Linked DNA regions of Homo sapiens: region 1 is linked to region 2. A link means that fine-mapping ties the variant in region 2 to the plasma level of a protein whose gene starts in the linked region. Region 2 holds a variant in brackets. A gene starts in the other region. All regions are shown on their reverse strands.

Region 1 (11,583 bases), not on the chromosome of region 2:
TGTCTTAAGGCCAAGTGTTGATTGTATATGTGGGATTATTTGTTGAATATTCCATCTCTCCTCTTGGATTTGACCTGCCTCTTCTCATATTTGCATTTGAGCCTCTTTCTGGACTCTTTCCCATCGTGTGACTGTCCAGGGTCTGTGTTAATTATCATGGTCTTAGAATATAAGGCGTTTCAGGATGCGACATGGCCCATCTCTCTCCGTACGTTCATTCTTTCATGTGAACTTCACAATTGCTCTGGATGGGCCTCCTGATTCATTCAAGGAACAAGCCATCAGGCTTCAGCCAGGCCAGAGAATGGGCCGTGGGTCCCAGCACTGGGCTTTCATCTGGGTTCCATCCGATTGGCCTGTGCCCCAGGGCCTGGCTCCTCGGGACTCAGCCAGTCCTGCCGGTGGAGTGCATAGGCATGACGCTGAGTGCTGGACTCTGTTTCCACGAGAGGCCTTGGGGTGGAGGGGTGTCCCAAGGGAGTGGCCGAGGCAGAGGACCCTCTTTCTGGATGTCCTCACTTGCCCATGGGAAGGGAGGTGGTCCTGGCTGAGCCACAAGGCCCTGCAAGCCCAGGCCCTGCACACATGCACCTTGGTAGAGCCAGCCAGAGAGGCCTGATGACCAGAGCACCTAAGCGGCAAGGGCAGGCAGGAGTGCCCAGGAGGGAGCCAAGCTGTGGCCGCTCTGCTGAGCCATCCGTTCCAGCAGGCAGCAGGCAGCGGACTGAGAATGCTCAGTTCAGAACTCGAGCCTGGGCATGAACCGGAGCCTCCAGAAACCTGCCCCTTAAGCGGGTCGGCTAAGAGTGGCAGCTGGGAGCTGGAGACCCAGGACACAGGCAGCCCCCAGCAGCCCATGTGGCCTCTTCTCAGCCACACCCCGAGGGCCCCAGGCTCTGCTCCCACCATGGCCGGCCTCCTGGGAGCCCCTCGCCTGGCTGGATGGGCCAGTGGGGCGGGGGCATTGAGCAGAGGGTGGGTGGGGCCAGCAGACCCCAGATGTCCGGACACAGACTAGGAGAAGCGCCTCTAAGGCTGGCAGCAAACCCCGGCCAGCCTGGACCGTCAGCAGGAATCCTGGCTAAAAATATCCCAGTCTCAGAGGCCTGCCGGCTGCTGCAGCCTCCTCAGAGCCCCCTCCTCACGCTGGGCACCGCCCCTGTGCCCCTCCACCTCCCTTGCAGGCAATAAGGCCTGCGGACACAGGAGGAAACTTAGGCCCTGTGCCAGTGAGTCCCAGCCCCAGGGCCTGGCCTCCAGGACTGCCCACAGAGGCCCCCATCTCACTGTAAGGCCCCGCCCTGCTCCGCACCCATGAGCCTGGGAAGGGGTCAGGGCAGGCCCCATCACGACTAGCTCAGGCAGGGGCACAGGCTCTGCTGGCCCCACCCTGCACAGCTCCCTGTCCCATGGCTCTCAGAGGCAGAGCCACTGGCTGGGGGGCAGAGCCCCAAGGACTTGGTCTGAGTCACCCTAGCAGAATGTGGGGTGCTAGGTGGGCTCTTCCCAGTCACCCCTGTGGGCTTCAAGTGACCAAATGGCATGGCTATGCCCTTTATCCTGGAATCACTGACTGGGGGACTCAGGCCAAGGCCCGCCTCCCAGGCACTCAGTTTCCCCACCTGTAACCAGTGGGGATATGTGGAATGGGGGTCCAGCAGAGGTATGCAGGGTGTTACAGTCTGCCTCCCAGAGTGTTTGTTGAGTGACTGAGGAAGTGAGCAGATGAAGGCGGCAAGGGAGGCTGTGGAGGGTGGGGCTACTGAGCTCAGAGTCAGGCTGGCCCTTTTGCGTCCTTGACGGAACCCTGTGGTAAGCCCTCAGCCTCTCCATCTGGGAAACGGAACAAACCTGCATGCTGCATGGATTGTGGTGGCCCAGAGTGGGGAACCCAGGGGCCCAGGGAGCTCCTACAAGAGCAAGGCTGGGCACTGGCCAGCCGAAGCATCCCAGGGGCCATCTCACTATGGCCCCAAGATGGGTTTGGCGGTCTACCCTGCCTTCCACTCCCCACCCACTCCTGCTGACAGCTATCACCATGCCTTCCCTGCCTTCCCTGCCCCACTGGGAGCTTGTGGGTGTTTTCAGCGGGTGCCCCTCCCCCCCGACCCGGTTTTGACTGCCCGCTGGGCTCCTGGTGTGAACAGCGGCTCCCAATTTAGCTGTCACTGCCAGGTGGGTGGCTCTAGAAGGATCCACACTCCCTGCAGGGGCGGGGGAGGGGCGTGAAGCCACAGCGGATGCCTTGGGCACAGCCCAGGGACCCCCGCCTTCCGGAGCTCTGCCCCTGCACCAGATTTGGGCCTTCAGGGACCAGAAGCCGCCTACTCCCCAGCCCCCACCAGCCGGCCTCCCCAGAGAGAGGCCACCAACTCGGTTGTGCCCACTGAGAGAAGACCCTGAGCCCATCTGCTGGCAAACACAAGTGGCCCGAGGCTCATCTCAAGGTCCAGGAGCCCTGGGGACTCACCCCTTCCTCTAGGCACCAGGAAGAGTGGCGGACCAGGGTCCAGGTGCCAGCCTGGCATGTCCCACTTGGCCGAGTGTCCTTTCATCTCCGTTCAGGCTCCCATCCTGGAGATGGGCCACAAGGGATCCAGTCCAGGGCTGGGGGACGCAGAGGTAAGGGCCATCACTGTGCAATGCATACGTCCCATTGACGGTCCCCAGCAGCCTCCAGGTGGTGGGAGGTGCGCATGGTCCGTCAGGGGGCCTGCCTAGTGTGGCACAATCCAGGATGCCATTCTGTGGGAGGAGGCCCTCGCTAGTGAAGGGTCAGAGGCATTTGGAGATGGGCAGGCCCAGTGGGATTCTTGGGGCCACTGCCAGGGTTTGGTTGTCGGTCCCTTCCTTGTGCCAGCCCCCTTTGCTGCTGCTGTGGCTTTGATGAATAAGAGATGAGGAAGCAGATTAATTATGGCTTAACATGCACCAAAGTTGGGCAGAGGGACTCCTAGGGATGGGAGTCCTCAGGGGTGCAGAGCTGATAGGGGAAGGCCAGGACACCCTCTGCAGCCCCGGGGATGGGGGATGGTGAGAGGCTTCTGGAGGAGGCGGAGGCTGTGGACAAAGAGAGGGCAGAAAGGGGCTGCCAAGATGTGGGTCCACCTAAGCTCCCCAGACCTCCTTCTCTGGTCTGGAAAATGGGTAGTGGTAGTAGTGTCTACACTGTAGGATTGAATGGGATGACTCACTCAGCAGGCCTGGCACAGAGTCCTCTTAGGCCTTGGGCATGCAGCCGCCCTCCATGGTGAGAGCAGATGGCAGGCCAACACCCCCCAGCTCCCTGGCACTGGGACCACATCCCCAGCCGCCCACTCAGAGTGCAGGGAAGGTCAGTCACATTGACACACTTGGGCAGCAGGCATGTGCTTGCCACATGACCTTCTAGCTTCCTTCTTGGTCTCTCCTTGCATTGGCCTGGAGTGGCCCAGAATGTGTGGAGCAAAGACCCAGTTTCCTTGCTGCCCCATCCCTCCCCAGGAGACACTGAGGGCCTGGATGTCCGTGAGTACCGCACAGGCATGCCAAGGAAAGCCATGGCACGCCTATCTCTCCAGGCAGGAGATGAGTCTTCCCAAGCCCTGGGAAGCAGTGACCTTCCAAGGAGGCTGAACCGTGTCCCTGTCAGCCCAAGACAGGCCACCGCGAAAGTTCCCCTCATCTCAAGCTGGCTTCTATGGGCAGTCCTGGAGTTTTGAGTGAAAACCCTGCATGATCCTCTCAGGGGACAGGCGAGGTGAACAAAGGAGGGATGGTGACCAGCTGACCAGGACCTGAGGCATTAGCGTCTGCCTCGTCCACATGCTGTGCAAGCTCAGCGAGGCCAAGGGACTGGGCTGAGGTCACACAGCTGGGCAGGGCCCTCATGACCGGCATGCTGGTCGTGGAGGCTGAGCCCCACATTTTGGGTGTGGGTGTGGGTGGGAGGTGAGACAGCCCCTGGCCTCACTGTAGAGGGGTGGTGGGCTGGGGAAGCTGGCAAAGAATGTGCCCCACATGGTGGGTGTGAGGTGGGGAACGATTCGGGCAGATGCCCGTGTGGCCCTGCTGACCCAGTCCAGGCAGGGTGTGACAGGTCTGTGTGGCCCTGAGGGCACAGCTGTCTGCAGTCTCCAGCTCACTCCTGATCCCCAGGGCCACGTGTCCAGAAAGCCTGGGAGCTTGCATCAGCTGGGCACAGATGGCCTGTCCTCCCAGCACCCCTGATGGGGCTTCCTAGGAACTGACTGGTGTAGACTCCGGGCAGCAGACGGCCAGGCTCTGCCCACAGGGTCCCTGGCTCCTCCCACAAGGTGACCCGATAGAACTGGTTGTGCCCCTTGACCAGGGGCTCCAGCCCTTGTCAAGCCCTCCCTGCTAGCCCCTCACCAGCCGTCAGCTGCTCCCCTTCTTGCCCGTTGGGCCCTGGGGGGTGATGGCTCCGTGGTCGCCTGCCCAAAGAGTACACCACTCCCCATGCTACCCCTCACCCGGCTACACCCTGAAAAATGTGGCTTACCAAACCCTCCCACATGCGCAGCCTGAGAAGTGGGCTGTGCCTTGCTGGTAGCAGACCCACCGGCTGCCTAGCCCTGCTCAACTCTGCCTCTGCACCCCCATAACTCCCTATCAGCGCTGGCCGACGCCTAACCATCCCAGCTAGCACCCAGGAGTGGGCCCAGCTTCCAGTGGGGAGGGTGCTGGCCAACGTGCTGACCGAGGTGGCGGACACAGGAAACCAGCCCATCCCCCAGCGCTCCCTCTGCAGGCCTCAGCCCTGCTCCCATGCAGAGACCTGTGGGGAGGTGGAGGCCCAGGTCCCAGCGCAGAGCAACCGGGAACAGCCAGGTTGGTGGCTGGAGAGGGTGCTGGTGCCAGAAGCCTCCAGGGCCACCCCTGCTCCCCATTTCACCCCATGCCCATCCCATGCCCCAGAATGGTCACTTCGGCTGCGGCAGGAGGGGTGGGAGGGGCTTTAAACCTATGAGATAGGGTGTGGGGTCACAATCTTCAGCTATAGTGGGCTGCTCTGGGTCACTGGTAATTGAAGAGACGCCTGCGGAGTAAGCAAGCAAGTGTCCTCTCAAGGCCTTTCTGCAAGCACAGAGCAGCCCGAGACTGGAGCCTGGTCCACCCCAGCGCTGTCCTCAGACTGATGGTCAGTGCCACGTGACTCATCTAGGGTCTGATACATCCCTGTGGAGAGAGCTCAGTTCCTAGCCTGGGGGCTGCTGTGTGCAGGGACCCTGGAGAAGAATGCTTGTCTGGGGGTCAGGCCTCAGCCTCCCACTGGCTCTGTGAGCTTCGCCTGAGGTTCCCTATCTGTGCAATGGGTGATGACGTCTTGGTGTGGCTCTGGGAGGACCTGTTGAGCCACCTCAGGGGCTGAGCTGGTGGCACTCGGCAGCCAGCACCCTCTGGGGAGGTGGCAGTGTGTGCACAGCCCACCCCTTCAGGAGGCCAGGGGACAGAGTGGCTGGGGGTGTCTGGGCCCCACCTCACCTTCTGTGTGGCTGGGAATGGCATGCACTCCACAATGCCCTCATAAGCCTAGGCTGGGACAAGGGTGATAGGGATAAAGCAGGCCAAAGTGATGAGGGCCACAGAGCGGCAGCCAGAGGCATGTGGGCAGTGCAGCCTCCACACCAGGCAGAGGGCCCACCCAGCATGGCTCCACCCTGCGAAGCTGCCTGCCACTGGGATCAGATGGGAGCACCAGGGCTCTGGGAGGTCCTCACTTCCTCTGCACAAGGCAGGCAGGTCACCGGCCCTGCGCCCTGCTCATCTCCCTCAGGGCCACCTCCATGGCCAGGGGCAGGCAGAGGGCACAGGGGTGCCCAGTCACCAGGTCTCTCTGCTTCATATCAGTGGACCTGGGCTCTGAGGGGGGCCATCAAGGCATCAGGCTGGCCCACTCCGTCCTTGAGTCAGGGTCCTACAGACTGACACCAGGTGGGCCTGCAAGACCCTCATCTGCATGGTCCTCTCATGCAGGGTGGGCCTGGGGAGGACCCAGCCCGGCTGAGCTGACTCCCAGCACTTCTCCAGGTGCAGGGGCAGCCTGGCAGTTGTCTGAAGACCCCGGGATGCACTTAGGAGCTCATCGGTGAGGCCCGGTAGGTGCCCCGAGCAGAAGATTGAGAAGGGACACCTGCACCCCTGTGTGGTGTGTGCAGGGGCGTCACTGGATTCTCTGGCCCCATGCCTCACACCGCCCGTGGGGGGCTGGCTTGGTAGAGTGGGGGGATACTAAGCAGGTGACCTCGGAGAGCGTCTTCTGGGTTTGGAGCCCCCATTCCGCAGAAGGGAAGAGGTGGGGGACCCCTGCAGGGTTACGGGTAACATCAGGCCTAGGTCCCTTCTCTAGGATGGTGCAGAGAGGGCCACAAAGGCCCAGGAGGGCCCCCAGAACTCTCTTAAGCCCTGAGCCTGTTTCTTACTGAAAAATGGGGGCGATCGTGCTGCAGCAAGGGGCTTCTGTGCAGGGGGCGGGGGATTCATGGGTTTCGTGAGGCCAGGAAGGGAGTGGGTCAGGCAGAGGCCATTCCTAGGCCTCGGGACAAAGCCCTTGCCCGCTTGGGGACCGGGCCAGCCTAGGCCGCCACACCCTCGGGCCCGCGTCCCCGGCCGGCTCCGGCCCGGGCCGCCATCCCCTCCGCCGCCTGCAGGGGCCGCCGCCTCTTCAGGAATGCGCCGCCTTTGTCTGGGACCGCGCGGCGCCGGTGCACCGGGCGGGCTGAGCGCCTCCTGCGGCCCGGCCTGCGCGCCCCGGCCCGCCGCGCCGCCCACGCCCCAACCCCCGCGCCGCCGCCGCCCTCGCCCTGTGCGCCCTGCGCGCCCTGCGCACCCGCGGCCCGAGCCCAGCCAGAGCCGGGCGGAGCGGAGCGCGCCGAGCCTCGTCCCGCGGCCGGGCCGGGGCCGGGCCGTAGCGGCGGCGCCTGGATGCGGACCCGGCCGCGGGGAGACGGGCGCCCGCCCCGAAACGACTTTCAGTCCCCGACGCGCCCCGCCCAACCCCTACGATGAAGAGGGCGTCCGCTGGAGGTGAGTGTCCGCGCTGCACCCGAGCCCGGCCGGCGGCGGGGCGCGGAGGGGGGCGGCTCGCCCCCTCCCCGGAGCCGCAGGGCCCGTCCCGGGCTGCCGAGGCGAGGGAAGCGTAGCCGGGCGGCAGGGAAAGCCACCGCAGTGCCGCGCCAGGCTGGGGCCGCTGGCGCCCCGGCCCCGGGAGGGCGGAGCCGGAGGCGGCAGGAAAAGTTGCCGCTTCCCGGGAAAGTTGACGGCTTCGGCAGGGCCGAGGGTGGCGGTCCGAGGGTCCCCGATGCTGGGCCAAGTCGAGGGCGGGGGCCGTGGGCTGGAAGGGCGGGGCCCGGCCTCGGAGCGCCCCGGCCACCAAGGGGTTAACGAGCGGGTTTTTGCAGAAACGTGGGTACCGAGGGTGGGTGGGGGTGTCGGGCCGCCTCCACCCCAGCCTCACGGTCTGGGCTCAGAACCTCCCGTTTCTCCGAGGTCAGTCCACAGTGGGATGAATGGGGGCGTTGGCGGCAGTAGAGGGCGTGGGGGACAGGGTTGTCCCAGCGCTGCCTCCAGGGCGGGCGGTGAGAGGAGGCAGCAACGCCCGCCATCTGCAGCCCGAGGGACATTGAGAGGCTTGGCTGGGGGAATCAGGGGCGGTGGGGCAATCAGCAACCCCTCCCTAGCAGCCCTCGTGGGACTCCCCCGCCCCACCGGCTGTGAGGTCCCGCGGTGCGGGCAAGGGAGGGTGGGCTCCATGTGAGTTGGGCATGCCCCGCCTGGAGGGTGCTCCCCAGGTGCCCACCCAGGCTGCCCTGCTGATGTCCATGGTGCCGCAGGCTGCACACACGTTTCCTTGCACGTGCACTTGTCTACACGGACTGCACACTTGCACACCTCTGGTGCACATGCAAGCCAACGCCGCCCCAGTGTGCACATGCACAAACACTGGGTGCACACACGGACTCTGAGGGTGCATATCTGTGTCCTCGCCCCCGCCTGCACACCCACGGCCACACATGCATGCACGCGGCATGCCTGCTGTGGTCTCCACGGGTGGCACATGCTGGGGCCCCTTTCGCAATAACCACTCCCGCACCCACATGCTCGTCTGTTGAGTGGGGAGGCCAGGCCCACAGACAGGGGCAAGACATCCTGGGCCCCACCTCTGCCTGCCTGCCTCCGTGTCCTGGGGGTCCCCGCCTCGGGCTTGTGTGCGTGTGTGTAACTTGGTATGCATCTGCACGTGTGTCTGTGCGCGTGATCATGTGTGCCTGCGGGCACATAGGCATGTCTCTTTGCCTCCAGGGTGTGGGTGCCCCTTGTGTGCCTAGACAGGCTGTGGCCTAATCTGGAGCAGAGGCCCTGGAATGTGTGTTGGGGGCTCGTTGAATACCGCAAAGCCCAGGGTGTGAGGGGCAGGGTCTCCCAGCCACTCCCTACCCACCAGGGCTGAGGCAGATAGATGATGGTGGGCTGGAACCTGTCTGGGCAGGGAAGACCCATTTCAGGCCATGAGGTCAACACTGTGACCAACAGGCCAGACCCTGGGCACCCTTGGTGGCCGCTGCAGCTTGGCTGACTGGAGCACGTGACCCAGCGTGACTGCAGAGGCCCCGCCTCCAGTGCCTCAGTTTCTCCATGGTGAGGACCTTCTTGGTGAGGGGTTCTGTGGTGGGCTCCCCTACCTCCGGTGTTGTGTAGGGTGCTGAGCAGATGGATGCCATGCTGCATGATGGGCAAGGGTGGCCCACTAGCACTGTGGCAAGGGCCCTGGGCTGGGGCTTGGATTGGCAGGCCACACCTCCTGCTCCCCTGGCCACCACCAGAGGCTCATCTATAGAGTGGGGACCAGCAGGTTATCCTTGTAGGTTGTGTGAGGGTGAAACATACTAGCAGAGGGGCAGCTGAAGCAGTGGGGCTGGCCAGTCTCTTTTTCTAAGCCTCAGTCTTCCCATCTATAAAGGGGGTACTGTTCCCTGTTCTTCTCTACTGAGGTGAGGAGGAAGTGAGCTCCCATGCCGGGGGTGGGAATGGGTGGCCATCAGCACCTAGACGCCACCTGGCAGAGGGGCACGTGCAGGGCCTGCCGTGGCAGAACCGTGACCTGGATTTGGGTCCTGGCTCAGCCACCTGCTGGCGGTGTGACCTTGGGTGTGACAGGTCGCCTCTCTGCCTCAGTCTTCCTCACCTGCACCATGGGCCAGTGGTCAGGGATTATCGGGGCACTTCCAGGCTGAGGCTGGGCGGAATTGGCCCGGCTTTCCCTGTGGAGTTCTGACTCTGGTGCTTCTGCCTCAGAATGCCCACAACACCTCCCCACACCCCCACTCAGCAGAGTCCTCCTGGGACCTTTGCACTGCCAGCTGGCCCCTCACCCCATCCATGTGCAGAAGGGACAATAAAAGCCCCTAGTCAGGCAACTCGGGCCACAGGTGAGTGGAGAGGGGACAGGGCAGGGATGCTGCCCAGCTTGGGAGACCCTCCCATAGTACCTTCACTCCCTCCCTGCCCTCCCCCTGTTCCTCACCTGGGGGTCTGTGGAACCCCTGAGCCTCAGTTTCCCCGTGCCAGGGTCCTTCTGCTGGGACTGGCAGAAACGTAGGTTTGCATGGAGTGAGAAGCAGGGGAGAGGCTGAGGGAGGGCCTGGCCCAGCACGTCTCTGAAAGCCAGAGGGCTTGTGGAGGGTCCATGGAGGACACCCCTACAGGGGCTGGGGCCCTGGAAGGTGGGGGAAGGTCCTGCTGTCCTGGGAGGCTGGGAACTGGCCCACAGCCTGTGGAGGGGCCAGGGTTTGTTTGCTGTTGCTGTGAGTGACAGGCAGGCTGTGAGGGCCAGGGTGTGTGGGACCGTGCTCTCCCCCTCCCTCTGCCCAGGAACAGTGCAGCCTTGTAGCATTGCCCTCTCCTCGTCCCTGCCCCAGCCTTGAATTCATGCTTTGTGGCACGGACGGCCCTGTGCAGCCGGTGCAACACCAGGAGGGTCCAGCTGGTGAGGACAGGACGGGCGGGAGGCAGAGGAGCCCTCCTGCTGTCCTGGGCCTGTGGCCCGGAACCTCTCACCGGGAGCCTTGGTCTGTGCACCTGGGAAAGGGGTCAAGAGCAGGAAGCACACGGGGAGTTTCAGGATGACCTGGAAATGAACAAATGCGTGTGTGAGCCAGGCGCCCCGCCCGGCCCTGGCACAGGGTTAGTGAGGGCTCCTGACACTTGGCTACTATCTGATCAATGAGGTTCATGCCGTCCCGCCCCCATTCTGGTGAGCCTGACCTCTGACCCCCAGGCTGGTCTGCCTGACCCTCTGCAGCCACCCAGGGCCTGGGCCTCAGGGTCTGCGGGAGCTGGCTTGGCCGCCTGCTGCCTCTGCAGCTGTGCAGATGCCCTCTCGGGTCCCTCTCTGCACCCCTCAGTGTCCCTGCTCTGCGGTCTGGCTGCACCCAGGCCAAGGTCACAGGCACCCTCCTCAAAGCCAGATCCCAGATGCTGCATTTGCCCCAACCATCCATTCACTTTCTCATTTGTTCATTCATTCACTCGTTCGTTCCTAGCCTGTCAGATTCTCTTCTGAGCCAGGCAAATCAAGGGGTGTGATCCTTGGCATCGGGCATCTCTAGGATTAAATGCTTTAAAGGATAGGAGGTCACAGAGTGGCCCAGGGAAGCCCGATCGGAGCGGCGGGCATGCTGCCCCACCCCACAAATCTCCCTGCACTGTCCCTGGGGCCCAGCTGGGCTCCCCCACACCAGGTGTTCTGTGCTGCCGTTTCTTCTTTTATCGCTGTATTTTAAACATTTTGCACATCGGGAACTATTCTTGTGCATCATGGGTTTTCTGGTGTGTGTGGAATCCCTTCCTGAGAATGCACCATCATTTATTTATCCAAACCTGCACCGGCCTCCTGCACTGCCTGCAGCCGTGGAGCTGGACACTGGGAGATGCAGCTCTGCACACCCACCCCACCATGTCCTCAGCTGGCACCCACCAGGTCTGGGGTCTGGTCACGTGCCTCTCCCCCGATGCTTGGGCTGATTTCAGGGGACTCGGCAGCAGGGCCAGATCCTGCCCCTCCTAGCCCACTGAGGCTTTGACAACCGTGGGCTGGCCGGGTAGGTGATGGTGAGTGAGTAGAGTCTGGGCAGCCATTTGTGCAGTGGGTGCCTTGGGGCCACCTCTCCCCTGCCTCTTTCATACAGCCTCTGGTCTTGCCTGCTATGGCCTGCGGGGCCTCTTCTGCGGGGCAGCAGGGCAGCGGGGCATGGGGTGATGCTGACACTGTTCCGCAGCTGTGTCCTGTCCGATGGAGGCAACCCACAGCAGCCAGACCAGGAGGTGGAGAAGAAAGGCAGGGCAGTTGGCACACCTCGAGAGTGGCCTTAGGAGGGGCTGAGTGGGCACAGGCCAGGGTCCCCATGTAGGTCTACACAGGCCTGGCAGGTGGAAAGCCCCATTCAGGGCCCTGGCACATGGAGCTGGGCTGATCTGGGAGTGAGGTGTCGGGTGCTGACCCAGCCTCACTCAGAGCAGCCTGCCCTGGGCCCCCGGGTGCCTCTTGGCTCTCCAGTCAGCACCCTGGCATTCTTAGCTGGCTGT
Region 2 (12,456 bases):
TATGCAACCTCTGTTAGGGTTATGAGCTGGAAACCCAGGCTTGTTAGAATTTTGCATAAATAAGTGTCATAGGATTTTGAGCATTGGCTTTAGAGAGTCTTCCATGAGCAAATATATGAGCTTGGCACCCTGAAGCTTTTGCAGCTATTTTGACTGCCCACAGGATTTTTCTTGCTTACTTACTGGTTTCTTAGCTTCCATTCAGAAGGCAGAACTTTCCAGCTAATTGACCTCCAAATAGTTGAAGCGTGATTGTATTATTGCTACTAATAATATTGGCATTGCATAAAAGCAACAGAACAAGTCTGCAGATTATACACTGCAGAGGCCCTTTAAAGAAACAGTTAATCCAGAGATTAGGCTGCATATTTTGAGGACTTTTTCAAATTTTTGTCAGGCACACACTCTCATCTGATGCTTGCAACAGTGTTGAGCATATTGTTTGTGAAGTGGTAGTGAACCTTAGTATGAGAAATACATGACCACCTACTGGTGGGGTTACAAAGGCAGAAATTCAGCTATAATCAAACAAACAAATGCATTATTCTTTCTACACATTCATGAGACAAGAGCGTAAACTCACTTGTGGAATTTACAGTTTTCCACAAGCGGATTTGGCGGAGGCATCTGACTGGGGATGTTTCTATGTCTTTCACTGTATGCATCTCTTATCATAAAATTTAAACAAAGAAATGAAAGTTGGCCACTTGCCATGGAATTAGATTCCATCATAGAATAAATTCTCATCACTAGTCCTAACGGTGATACCCAAGATACCTTTTTGGATACCTTGAAGGTAGGATACTTCAGGGTCCAATCAGATACATCAAAGGAAAATAAATGCTAACATAAAAATGGCCAAAGGAAGGGAAATAGTGATGTCGCTTTGTGCAACTTTTAGAGTAGTTTGTTTCATGCCAGACATTACTTTTATCCTTTCTGCCCCATTTATTATAAAAATTTTACTTTGAAAATGTTATTTTAGAAGGAAATTTTGTTGTCACAAGACTTAAACAGAGGAGGTGAAAGAATTAGATAGTGAACATCCAGGTATCCATCAACCACTTTCGACAATGAACACTTTACTTCTCTTGCTTTTTCATATCTCTTGCCATCTGTCCCTCCCTCCACCCAATCATCCAACCGTCTTGATTTTCTGATGCATTTCAAATGAGTTGCAGGCCTTGATACTGTTACCACTAAACCTTTCAGTATGCAGATCATTAACTAGAATTCAATATTTATTTACAAGGTTTGTTTTTGAGGTAGATACAGTATAATGTACAAACTATGTACATTTTGGTGGATTTTGGCAAATACACACAACTGTGTAACCCAAACAACTCTCAAGATCTGGGATGTTTCTAGCATCCCAGATTGTTCTCTCATGCCCATCCCACCAATCCTTGCCCCATTTTCCCAAAGACAACCATTATTCTGATATATAATTTTTCACCCTAGATTAGTTTTACCCATTTTAGGATTTCCTGTAGATACAATCACGCAGTGAGAAAAAGATGTGCAGGGCTTTTTCACTCAGAATAGTGGTTTGGAGATTCATTATGTTGTTGTGTGTATCCACTGTAGTTTGTTCCTTTTTATTGTTGAGTAGTATTCCATTGTAGCCATATACCACTGAGGAGAATTTTTAGAGAGAGAGAATATGCACCAAAGAATGCCAGAGAAGAGTTTCCGGGATAATGAGATGGTGGTGGTTGGGGGGACCTGAGGTATTTTACTATAAAAAAGGGCACTTTTAGGAAAGGACAGGAGAACTACCTTCTACTATTTAAGGCAAGAATCAGCAAACATTCTCTGCAATGGGCCAGATAGTAAATATTTTAGGCTTTACTGGGCCATGTGGTCTTTTTTCAAGTACTTAATTCCGACTTATAGTAAAGTAAAAGCAGCCACAGACAATATGTAAGTGAAGTGTGATTGTGTTCCAATAAGACTTCATTTATGGACACTGAGATTTAAATGTCATGTGATTTTCATGTGTCACAAAATATTATTCTTCTTTTGATATTTTTTCCAACCATTTGAAAACTTGAAATCCATTCTTAGCTCATGGCCCACATAAAAACAGATGGTGGGCCAGATTTGGCCTACGAGCCATAGTTTGTCAATCTTTGATAAAAAAGCACTGTCAAATGGAAGGAGGAATAATTATTCTGTTTAGAACTAGTGGGCAATATGAAGACTAAAGGAGGCAGCTTCTGCTCAGAAAACTGAGTAATTAAAGTAGTGTTGAAATGGACTCTAATTCCCTACTTTGTCTCTGTCCCTTGCCCCTATTGGTAGCATAGAATTAGCAGGACAGGCTACAGGGCTAGTCTGTTTAGTGCAATTGTCCAGCTCTTCTCAGTCTATCTGTGTGACCTCTGGCAAGTTAGTGAACTCTTTTCTGTTTCCATTGATTCATCTATAAAATAAGAGCAATAATAGATCCTACCTCCTAGAGGCATTTTCAAGATTCAATAAGTTGAGTGTCTATGAAGTTCTAGGAACAGTGCTGATTCACAGTCAGTACTACTCAATATACTTAGGACAGTGTCTGGCACACAGTAAGTATGAAATATGTGTTCATTATTATCATTACTGTTGTTATTGCTTTAGTCATTGGGAAGTTGGATAGGCATGTGCGAGAATTTTGTTGAAGGAATTCCTACTTTTCATAGTAGGCTGGACTAATAGATGCTTAAGTTGCTTTCCTGTCCTAATCATCAGCATTCTCTTCAATTTAGTGCCGGATACTTTGACCCTGAGGCTCAACTGTTGTTGAAATCTGAGAAGAAATAATATAACATTCTAGTCATTAATATTAGCATAGCCTACATAATAAGGTAAAAGTACAGTTGGGCCTCCATATTCCTGGGTTCCACATCTGCAGCTTTGAGCAACCACAGATTAAAAATAATTGTAAAAAAAAAAAAGAAGTAATAATACAACAATAAAAGTAATACAAATAAAAATGCAGTATAACCATTTACGTAGCACTCACATTATATTAGGTATTGTAAGTAATCTAGAGATGATTTAAAGTATACAGGAGGGTATGCGTAGGTTATATGCAAATACTATACCATCTTATATAAGGCACTTGAGCATCTGCAGATTTTGGTATTGAAGGGGGTTCTGGAACCAATCTCCTACAGATACAGAGCAATGGCTGTGTATTTTGTTTCTGCTTGATCTCTCCTTACGCTGGATCTTGGACCTAACTCTCAGTAGATCTGATTAATTATAAGGCCTCATGTGGATGCTGACTAGTTGTAATGCTACTTTAATTTTTTCTCCATGTGAGAAAGTGAGAGGAGTAGGGATCTTTGCTTTGTAAAGGGAAATGTGTCAAAGCATTAAGCAAGCATTAATTTTTCCTCAGAGCTTTATTCACATATTGGACGATGCTGAATAACCAGAGAGTTGTGCGATTATGCACAACATTATTAATGCAATTATGTCTGGATGTCCTGTGATGTTGTGGGACTGGTGCTCCAAGCCCATTATGATTGCTGTTGCCTGTTGAGAACAGGGGAATCCAAATAGAGTTGACTGTGGCAGATCTCCATTTGCAACCCCTCATCCCCCAGTTATAACCCTTATACTAGATTGTTGTCTTTGTTTACTTGGTCTCTGAAATTTATTTTCCCAAGCCTGATTATGTATCGTCTTTTTCTCTGTTAGCTGGCTGGAATGATGGCCCCTGTTTCTAGGTGTGGTAAGCACGATATAAAATCACAAAATGGTACTAACAGAGACCTGTGTGATTATTTATGTCAACATTTTCATTTTCCACATGAGGAAACCAAGGCACAGATAAGAGAAACTTCATGCTTCCAGTCCAGTGCTGTTTGTATTATGCCAGATTCATCTTCGACTCTAAGCAGGATCGGATGTGGGGTGTGTTGTTGAAAGTGGCAGGAGAGCCAGATGGAGGCAAGCCCCACCTTCATGCCTACAATGTAGAGTTTTGGCATTATTTCCAAATAAATATATATAATAACTGGAATACTACTCTCTGTTATATTGAACACTCTCAGAAAACATTATAAATATCAAATGTTAAAGCCTAATTTATTAAAAAGTCCTGTTAGGGGATGTCTTTATTATTTCACATATTGGAATCTCAAATTGTGGCATTGGTCTCAGCCTTTCTGTAACTCACAAAAGCTCTACTGATGAGAAAGTGATACCATAGTATTTACATGGGTGCTTAAACATTTAGACATCCATGTGAACAGACGATTCCAGGAAGAATTGCTGGTAGGACACAGAGCAACATCAAGGCAGGCCTTGACTCATCCTAGATGATAAGTTAAAAAAAAAAAGGTCAACATGGACGTGAAGAAAGAACAATAAAAGGGAAGAAATGCTAGATAGTGAAAAGGGAGAAAAGAAGAAAAGAAAGGAGGTAGTGTACCCTGGCAGTTCCCAGGAAGTTAAGGTGGCAGGGGAAATGCAAAGCTCTCTGATGGGGATGAGGCTCCTAGTCTTTTGACAAAAATAGAAATGGGGGCTTTCACCGTTAACCCCCACATCACTTAATAAAGCCTGTTCAATAGTCTCATGTGTTTTTTGAAGCATAAAGGATTTGAGTTGACTCTTACTATTTTCTAGCTTGACTCAAAGATGGTTTACAGCACAGGAAGTTCCAAGGTTTCACATAAACAATGTCATGAGAGTTATTAATTTTTGGAGTTAAGATTATTGCCTCCTAACTGACTTTCTGAACTTTTTGGATTTAGAAACTACTGCTTTGAAGGCAAATATTTGCTTTCCATATTAAAAAAACCACTTTTTAGAGTATGTAAAATGACACACTAACATGAACTAAATTCATAATGAAGCCAAATTCTTTTTAAAAATATTAAATCTATAAAATTAGAAAACCATTTCACCCTTTTGTGTAAAATACCTATGCTAATGCCTTGCTCACTCGTTTTTTAAAAAATCAATTTTAAGGAGAATAAAGAATTCTGCTGCAAAAACAAGTTGAAAGTCTAAAACTCGTTTATTGCGGTAGAGGCTCCAAGATCACACACGTCCATTAGAGGTATTCAGTGCAGGGTCACTGGAGGGTCGGCAAGAGACAGCCAATTAGATGTCTGTTTTTCCTTTCAAAGTCCTGTCTGTTTCCTTCACTCTCTTCAAAACACCCTAAGTAGACATATATATCATGAAGTCAAAGCGAAAAAAAAGAAAAAAGAAAAGAAAAAAGAAAGACAAAAAGAAAGCCTTAGAACAGTGGGAGTTTTATTATCCAATAGTCATATGCATTTTAAATACCCATCATTATCAAGAGGAAAAACGAAGCCTGGTGTCTGGTAAGAAGATGTGCTACAAAGTAGAATACTATTCAATTTTGTCTAAACTCAGGCAGGAAAAGGCTACTGAATGCAATCCTTGGTTTCCCACCGTGGAAGATAGATGACTTCAAAGTTGTAGCAAAAGTATTTGTTTAGAGTAGGGAGGATCAAGACTTTCTGGTATTTACAGTGAAAAAACAACAACAACCCAGCCTATCTTTTAGAAAAGGAATGCATGGTTAAATTGGCTCAGCTTGTCCTTAGCAACCTGAACTCGGAGGCCACATTTTTTCCTCTCTAAGAAGCAAGTGGGAACTTGAAAAGTATGTAGCATGTCGTGAAAAGGGAGCAGTGAACTTTGCCCAGGTCTGCAGCCAGCACTGAAATCTGAACCTTCTGTAGTCCCTGGACTGGTGTCCCACCTCGCTACCCCCAACCTTCCTTTTTAATCCCTCTGCATAGAGCGCCTTAGCAAACTACCTTGGCCTGGAAGCAGAGCAGTTGTGACTTCTGAGGGAAAACCTGTTCTCTAAGTATTTCTGATGCCATTAAGAAGGAAATGCTAATGACAACAAAAAACCCCACTAAACCCCAGCTTTATAATTATGATTATGATATTCAACCTTATTTTTTATAATATGTATGGAGAAAATATAGAAAGATTTTGTTCTGTTGCATTAATTTTCAAGATAGCTTGAGAAGTTTTGGAGGTTCCCTATGTAGAGATTGTCACTGCTTGGAAAGATTTTTCTTACCTTGTTGGCGGGGAATATCATCAAAAGCCCTGCATTTAGGCGGCTTGCAGTATGAATC[G/T]TTTCACAACAGTAAGTTACTTGGTAACTTGAGCTGCACTCGTTCCTGAAATTCTTTCACCTAATTGAAGATTAACTTGATTCCCCGGATTGTTGATGGTGGTTGACAGTGTGGGGCTGGGGTGGGTGGAAATAGATTATTCAACTCACAAAGAAGTAGGTGTACCCTAAGTGACTGTTCCATTACTGATCATGATTGTTTGCCTTCCTAAGTATTCATCAAACTCGGTGCTGCAGGATCGTGTGGGGAGGGAGGAGAGTGTACCGCCAGTGTTCAGAAAGCAGGTGAACCTCAGAGAAACTTCAATATTTTGTAAAGAGACTTATATGTAGTAATGGCTACTCCAGAATCCATTAACGCCCAAACAAGCCGACTCAAGGGTTCTGGCTTTCTCAAGTGGCTAATGTAAACAATATGAAAGTCAATAGTCGGGGACATTCCAAGATAGTATTAACACGATTGATTTATTGATGGTTGCACAATGGGAGGTTATCTTTTGTTAATTGACTCGGTAAATAAGCTCCCAGGCGTCAGGGCATAGGGGGAAAAGCAACCAGTGGAGGAAAAGGTGAGGCACCTGGATTATAATTTTTTTCAACTCCCAGCCTGTCTTGGTAAATTCCATACCACTTCCTCTGCCAACCTCAAACACAGTTTAGCAATTTTAATTCCGGCCAAAACTCTGCATCCATGTTTCATGAGGGGAAGACTCAAGGGTGGTATGTTCCTATCAAACAATCCAACTTTCTTTCTCTTTCTTTCTTTCTCTTTCTTTCTCTCTCTCTCTCTCTCTCTCTCTCTTTCCTTCCTTCCTTCCTTCCTTCCTTCCTTCCTTCCTTCCTTCCTTCCTTCCTTCCTTCTCTCTTTTAAAAACTTTTACTTCAGGAAGATTAAAGCAATAGTAGTTGAGAGAGAGACAGAGAGAGAGAGAATTCACCGACTTGGCTTATTTATTAATACAAATCTAGAAATGGTAGGGAAGATGCATGTATGATCTTTTTTTTTTCTTTTTCTTTTTTTTTTAGATGGAGTCTTGCTCTTGTTGCCCAGGCTGGAGTGCAATGGCACAATCTCTGCTCACTGCAACCTCTGCCTCCCAGGTTCAAGAGATTCTCCTGCCTCACCGCCCCCCAAGTACCTGGGATTACAGGCGCCTGCCACCACACCCAGCTAATTTTTGTATTTTTTGTAGAGACGAGGTTCGCCATGTTGGCCAGGCTGGTCTCGAACTCCTGACCTCAGGCGACCCACCCACCTCGGCCTCCCAAAGTGCTGGGATTGCAGGCATGAGCCACTGTGCCCGGCCTTCACGTGTGATCTTTTAACCTCCAAGAAATGATTGAACCATAGGGATAATACATTGTTTGCTGTTGGCAGTTATTTATGCAGCATTTCTCCATAAAGACTACCATAATTTGGTACTTCCTCCTCCTATGAGGAAGGGGGAAAGAAAAAAAAATGCTTTATAAATTTTGGTCGACTCCTAGTACAGCAGTCCCCCGTATCCGCAGTTTTGCTTTGCATGGTTTCAGCTACCCGTGGTCAATCACAGTCTAAAAATATTCAGTAGAAAATTCCAGAAATAAACAATTCCTAAGTTTTAAATTTCACACTGTTCTGAATAGATGAAATCTTCTGCCATCCTGCTCTGTCTCGCCTGGGCTGTGAATTGTCCCCATTGTCCAGCGGATCCATGCTGTATGCCCACCCCTGCCCGTAGTCACTTAGGAGCCATCTCTGTTGTCATATTGACTGTCACAATGTCACAGTGCTTGTGTTCAAGTAATTCTTATTTTACATAGTAATGGCCCCAAAGTGCAAGTATAGTGATGCTGGCAATTCGGAGATGCCAAAGGGAAGCCGCAAAGTGCTTCCTCTAAATGAAAAGGTGAAAGTTCTGGACTTAATAAGGAAAAGAAAAAGTATCCTGAGGTTGCTGAGATCTACAATAAGAATGAATATAGTATCCATGAAACTGCGAAGAGGGAAAGAGAAATGTGTGCATAGTATGTTTAGGGCTTGGTGCTGTCTTCGGTTTCAGGAATCCACTCAGGGTCTTCGAGGGTATCCCTCAAGCGCAAGGGGAGACTGCCGTATTATGTCTGCGGAAGTGGGACCTCCTAGATCAATTCCTAACACTTTGAACTTGGCAAGATAGATTTTTTTTTGGACTTTTACACTTTTATCAGCGATAGTTTAAAAATTTAAATTGCTCACTGTTTAACCCTTGCTATCTTCTAGAACAGTGGTCCCCAACCTTTTTGCACCGGGAACCAGTTTTGTGGAAGATGATTTTTCCATGGACAGGGTTGTGGGGATCATTTTGGGATGACACTATTCCACCTCAGATCATCAGGCATTAGATTCTCATAAGGAGCACCTAACCTAGATCCCTGGCGTGAGCAGCTTACAATGGGGGTCAGCTCCTATGAGAATCTACTGCCACTGCTGATCTGACAGGAAGCATGATCCGAAGTGATGCTCCCTCGCCCACTGCTCACCTCCTTCTGGGGCCTGGTTCCTAACAGGCCACAGATTGGTACGGTTCCGCAGGCTGGGGTTGGGGACCCCCGTTCTAGAACACTCAAAAAACATCAACTTCTCCCTTCACGCTGTCTTTTCCTCTGTCTCCCTAAGGCTTTTCTTTTTTTGATACGGGCATTCTTTAAGCTCTGACTTCTCTTTTCCTCTTTCCTCTGCCATCTCCCGTCAATCTCTTCCAGCTGCTGGCTGTACTCTGCAGGGGAGTTCAGAGTGAGCGTGAAGTACAAATCAACACCTGCACCCACTCCAGCTCTGTCTCCACCTTCCAACCATTTCCCGTCCTGACTTTTCTATTTCTGTACCTAACCCACCCCAACCCATTCTGCCATTGTTTTTGGCCTCAAAACTTGGAGTCCGCCTCACATTCCCACTTTCTTCTGTAAGTTCTCAAGTCCTATAGATTCTGCTTTTAAAATGTATAGTTCATAAACGATGAGCTTTGCCTCCCAGATAGATTAAATTGGACTGTGGATTGGCACACGGTAAGTATTCAATTAATTTTTGTTGAATGAAGGAATGAGTGAGTGGCTCCTCCTTAAACCAGGGTCCCTGCTCCAAAATATAATCCTACATAGCTTTGCATACTACTGTATTCTTCATAATAATCATCTCTGATCACATTATTTCAGGGCTCAAAAACTGTCAGTAACTAGTTTTCTCCTCAATCCAGGGTAAACTACTCTTTTTTCAAGTCACCCACAATGTCTTTTTGTTTATCTTCCACTAAACTCCTAAATATCCTATGCTCAATACAGAATATTGCTTATTTTCCTCTAAATTCTTTTTTTTTTTTTTTTGAGATGGAGTCTCACTTTGTCACCCAGGCTGGAGTGCAGTGGTGTGAGCTCAGCTCATTGCAAACTCTGCCTCCCAGGTTCAAGCAATTCTCCTGCCACAGCCTCCCAAGTAGCTGGGATTACAGGCATGTGCCACCATGCCTGGCTAATTTTGTATATTTGGTAGAGACAGGGTTTCTCTATGTTGGTTAGGCTGGTCTCGAACTCCCGACCTCAGGTGGTCCACCTGCCTCGGCCTCCCAAAGTGCTGGGATTACAGGCGTGAGCCACCACACCTGGCCTCCTCTAAATTCTTTATATCTCTCTGCTTCCCTATTTTAGCTCATTTTATTTCTTCAATCAGAATGTTTGTTCAATCATTTTTTTAAGCTGCATTTTTTTAACTGTTTTTTTGAGGCCCATTTCAAATGCTACCCTGTCCATGGAGCTATTTTTAGTTCCATATACTTCTTTCTCAGCCAAGCTAGATGTGCTCTTCCTCTTGGGGCGTTTATTGTATTCAGCCTGTATCGTAGATATTTCTATACTTGATTTATTCTTTCCTAATAGAAGGTAAATGCTTGGGAGACAGGAGCTAAATAAATCTTGCTTCTTTCTTCTAAGCCTGGACTCTCAGTGCCTTGTACATAGTAGGCACACAGAATGCTATTATTGAATTACAATGATTTTTATATTTTCATCCGTGTAAGATTTTTTTCTTTCTCCTTTGATTGCATGTTGTTGTTCAGCATTGTGTGCGTGTGTGTTTCCCCATTTGCTATGTCCTGCTTAGCACCTTTAGTTTTGAAATACACATTTATTTATGTATCTTTCCCATTTTGACCTAGTAAATAAAATGTATTTTTTCATGTGACTATCCAAAGTGAGAGAGGATACTGTGAAATGTCTCATGAACTGCTGTTCCAAGGTAGTATTTATAAGCAATCCTTTGATCTGGATTTCTTTTAAATTTTGTGTTTATCTGTACACATTTAGGGGGTACAGGTGCAGGTTTCTTACACGCATGTATTGTGTAGTGAAATCCACATTTATCAATCATTATTTTAAACTGGTCTTCGGAATGCAGGCAGGTCCAGGAGCAGGGCTCCTTCAGTTTGCCCTGCTGCAGCCTGCTTCGGGTTTGCCCAGCTTTCTGTTCTTTCCCTATCCCTCTTAATGTCTGGGAATTAGTTACGCTGAAGTTCCACTTCATACAGAGCTGCCTGCAACTTGAGATGCAAACTCCAACACTGTGGGCCACTTTTTAGAAGCATGTGGTCATTCGGGAAACAAAGGCACTCCTGTTTCCTCTTCTCAATAACAATTAAGACATCAGATTAATAGAATCTTTAAATTCTTGAACTATGCTCGCAGAATAGTTTGTGTTTGCTTTAACACAAAGGAATACTTTCCAAACCCTAAAGGTCACCCAAGAAATAAGAGAGAGACGGCTTATGAATCGTGTATGCTGGTAGATTTTTGGAGAATGGCATGTGTCCTAGGCAGTGCGCTCTGGCTTTGGAGCGACTTGGCATGGGAGTACTCTGTGATTTACGCTGGAGAGGCATTTCCTGGGCAAGGAATCCCCTGTATTGAAGGGGCATGCCATTAGGAGGAGAAGAAATAGGGGCGGGGCGGGGTGGGGAAGAGGAAGGCTTCTTGGTTCACATTCTGGCATTCACTTAATGAGTGTGATGTTCTTGCTAATGGGATTTAACCACAATACCTATCCCTAACCTTGTCACCAAAAAGGTAGTCTACATGCCCCTTTTTTTTCAATACCGTCTGCCTGGTAACTGTGCAAAAGTCTGTTCTCCCAATTTTCTAAATGGTAATCCTAGAATTATCTTGGCTCAGAAATGAATGAAGAACCCGTGTACAGGACTCAAATTTCCCTACAGGGGTTGTAACTGAAGCAAGGATTAAGTGCCAGTACACAAAACCTCTCAAGCAATGGACAGCATGTCGATTGCTAAACATTCTATGGTAGAAGGCCTTTAGTTTTTCTCTTTTATAAAGCTTGAGATCAAGTTTTGGTAAGAAGTAAAAAAGCAAGGCAATTTAGCTCCTTTAAAGGATTGCTTGTTGGGAAGGACAGAGCTATATTTAGCTCTGTGGCTGTGTCTCCAGGAAGCTAAAGCAACAAGGCAATTAAATGGTGAATTGTGTGTGTGTGTAGAGAGGGGGCTCAGGGGGAGGGCAGGTTAGGGAGATTATAATATAGGCCTTAAAAAGAATCTGTTTAGGAAAAAAATTTTCAAAACAGTTGCAAAGTATCATGAAGATACAGCAGACTATTGACTGACCACCTGTTGCACATCGCAAACCTTTATTTTGAAGTGGAACAGACAGAGCCTGAATAACTCCAAGTTCCCCCATATGGTGATAGCAATAATAAACTCTCTGTCATTTATTGAGTACCTACTATATACTAAACACAGTGCTTTACTTCTATTAAGCCATTTAGTGTTGACAACTGTGCTCTCGGCAGCAAATAACAAGAGGGTCTTGCCCAAGATCACATAGCTGCTAAGTGGTTGAAACAGATTTGAATCTTGTTCTCTTTCTCTCCCCACTTTTAGTTGCTTATATACACTATGCCTCCTATACTCTTCCCTGCTGCACTGGCATTTTATGATCTTTAAATTCTTATATTACAGAACTTTGACCTTCTAGGAGAAAGGCATGAAATACACCCCCCTCCCATAATGTCCATACTCATATACGTGTGTGTGTGTGTGTGTGTGTGTGTAAAACATCTACGTCTAAATCTACAATTTAAGTGGAGTGCTATCCTTAAAAAAGGAATAATTAGAAACTCTCATTTACATTGTAATTTACATTCAGATTTCCTGGAACTGTAGCTTTACTCTTTTTTGCTTTTTTTTAAAAAAAAAAACTCCTTTTATTTATTATAATTCCTGGAGATTTGGCTCTGCTCATGTCCTAGATATAGGGTTATGGATGTGGGGCAGAGTTCAGCGAGACAGAGCTGTGTCAGGAAACAAAACAGC

Alleles and levels. Alleles are on the strand shown, and positions count from the first base shown. The strength of an association depends on the size of the effect and on how common the allele is.
In carriers of allele T in region 2, the plasma level of the protein whose gene starts at base 6,779 in region 1 tends to be higher than with G alone (weak association).

What was found. A credible set is the group of variants that fine-mapping cannot tell apart. PIP is the chance, under the fine-mapping model, that this variant and not a neighbour inherited with it causes the effect. Protein levels are from antibody-based Olink assays in UK Biobank. Linkage for the fine-mapping came from a reference panel and not from the study's own genotypes, which makes the PIPs less certain.
Region 1: RTN4R starts here. The variant in region 2 is the best candidate, but not a certain one, in a credible set for the plasma level of the RTN4R protein (UK Biobank, PIP 0.60).

What each region holds. Positions count from the first base shown.
Region 1 is chr22:20,263,514-20,275,096 of GRCh38, reverse strand. RTN4R (reticulon 4 receptor) reads left to right here and starts at 6,779. Exons shown (of 2, transcript NM_023004.6): 1 at 6,779-7,026. The coding sequence starts at 7,005. RefSeq lists enhancers at 1-433, 7,247-7,935 and silencers at 6,516-6,575, 6,626-6,785, 6,876-7,035.
Region 2 is chr15:96,165,254-96,177,709 of GRCh38, reverse strand. All of the region lies in intron 3 of NR2F2-AS1 (NR2F2 antisense RNA 1), which reads left to right. The region is part of intron 1 of LOC112268156 (a long non-coding RNA gene); the gene reads right to left. It overlaps LOC105370997 (a long non-coding RNA gene), which reads right to left and starts at 6,127. Exons shown (of 3, transcript NR_188332.1): 1 at 6,065-6,127; 2 at 4,209-4,306; 3 at 3,375-3,958. The variant G/T (reference allele first, on the strand shown) is at 6,123.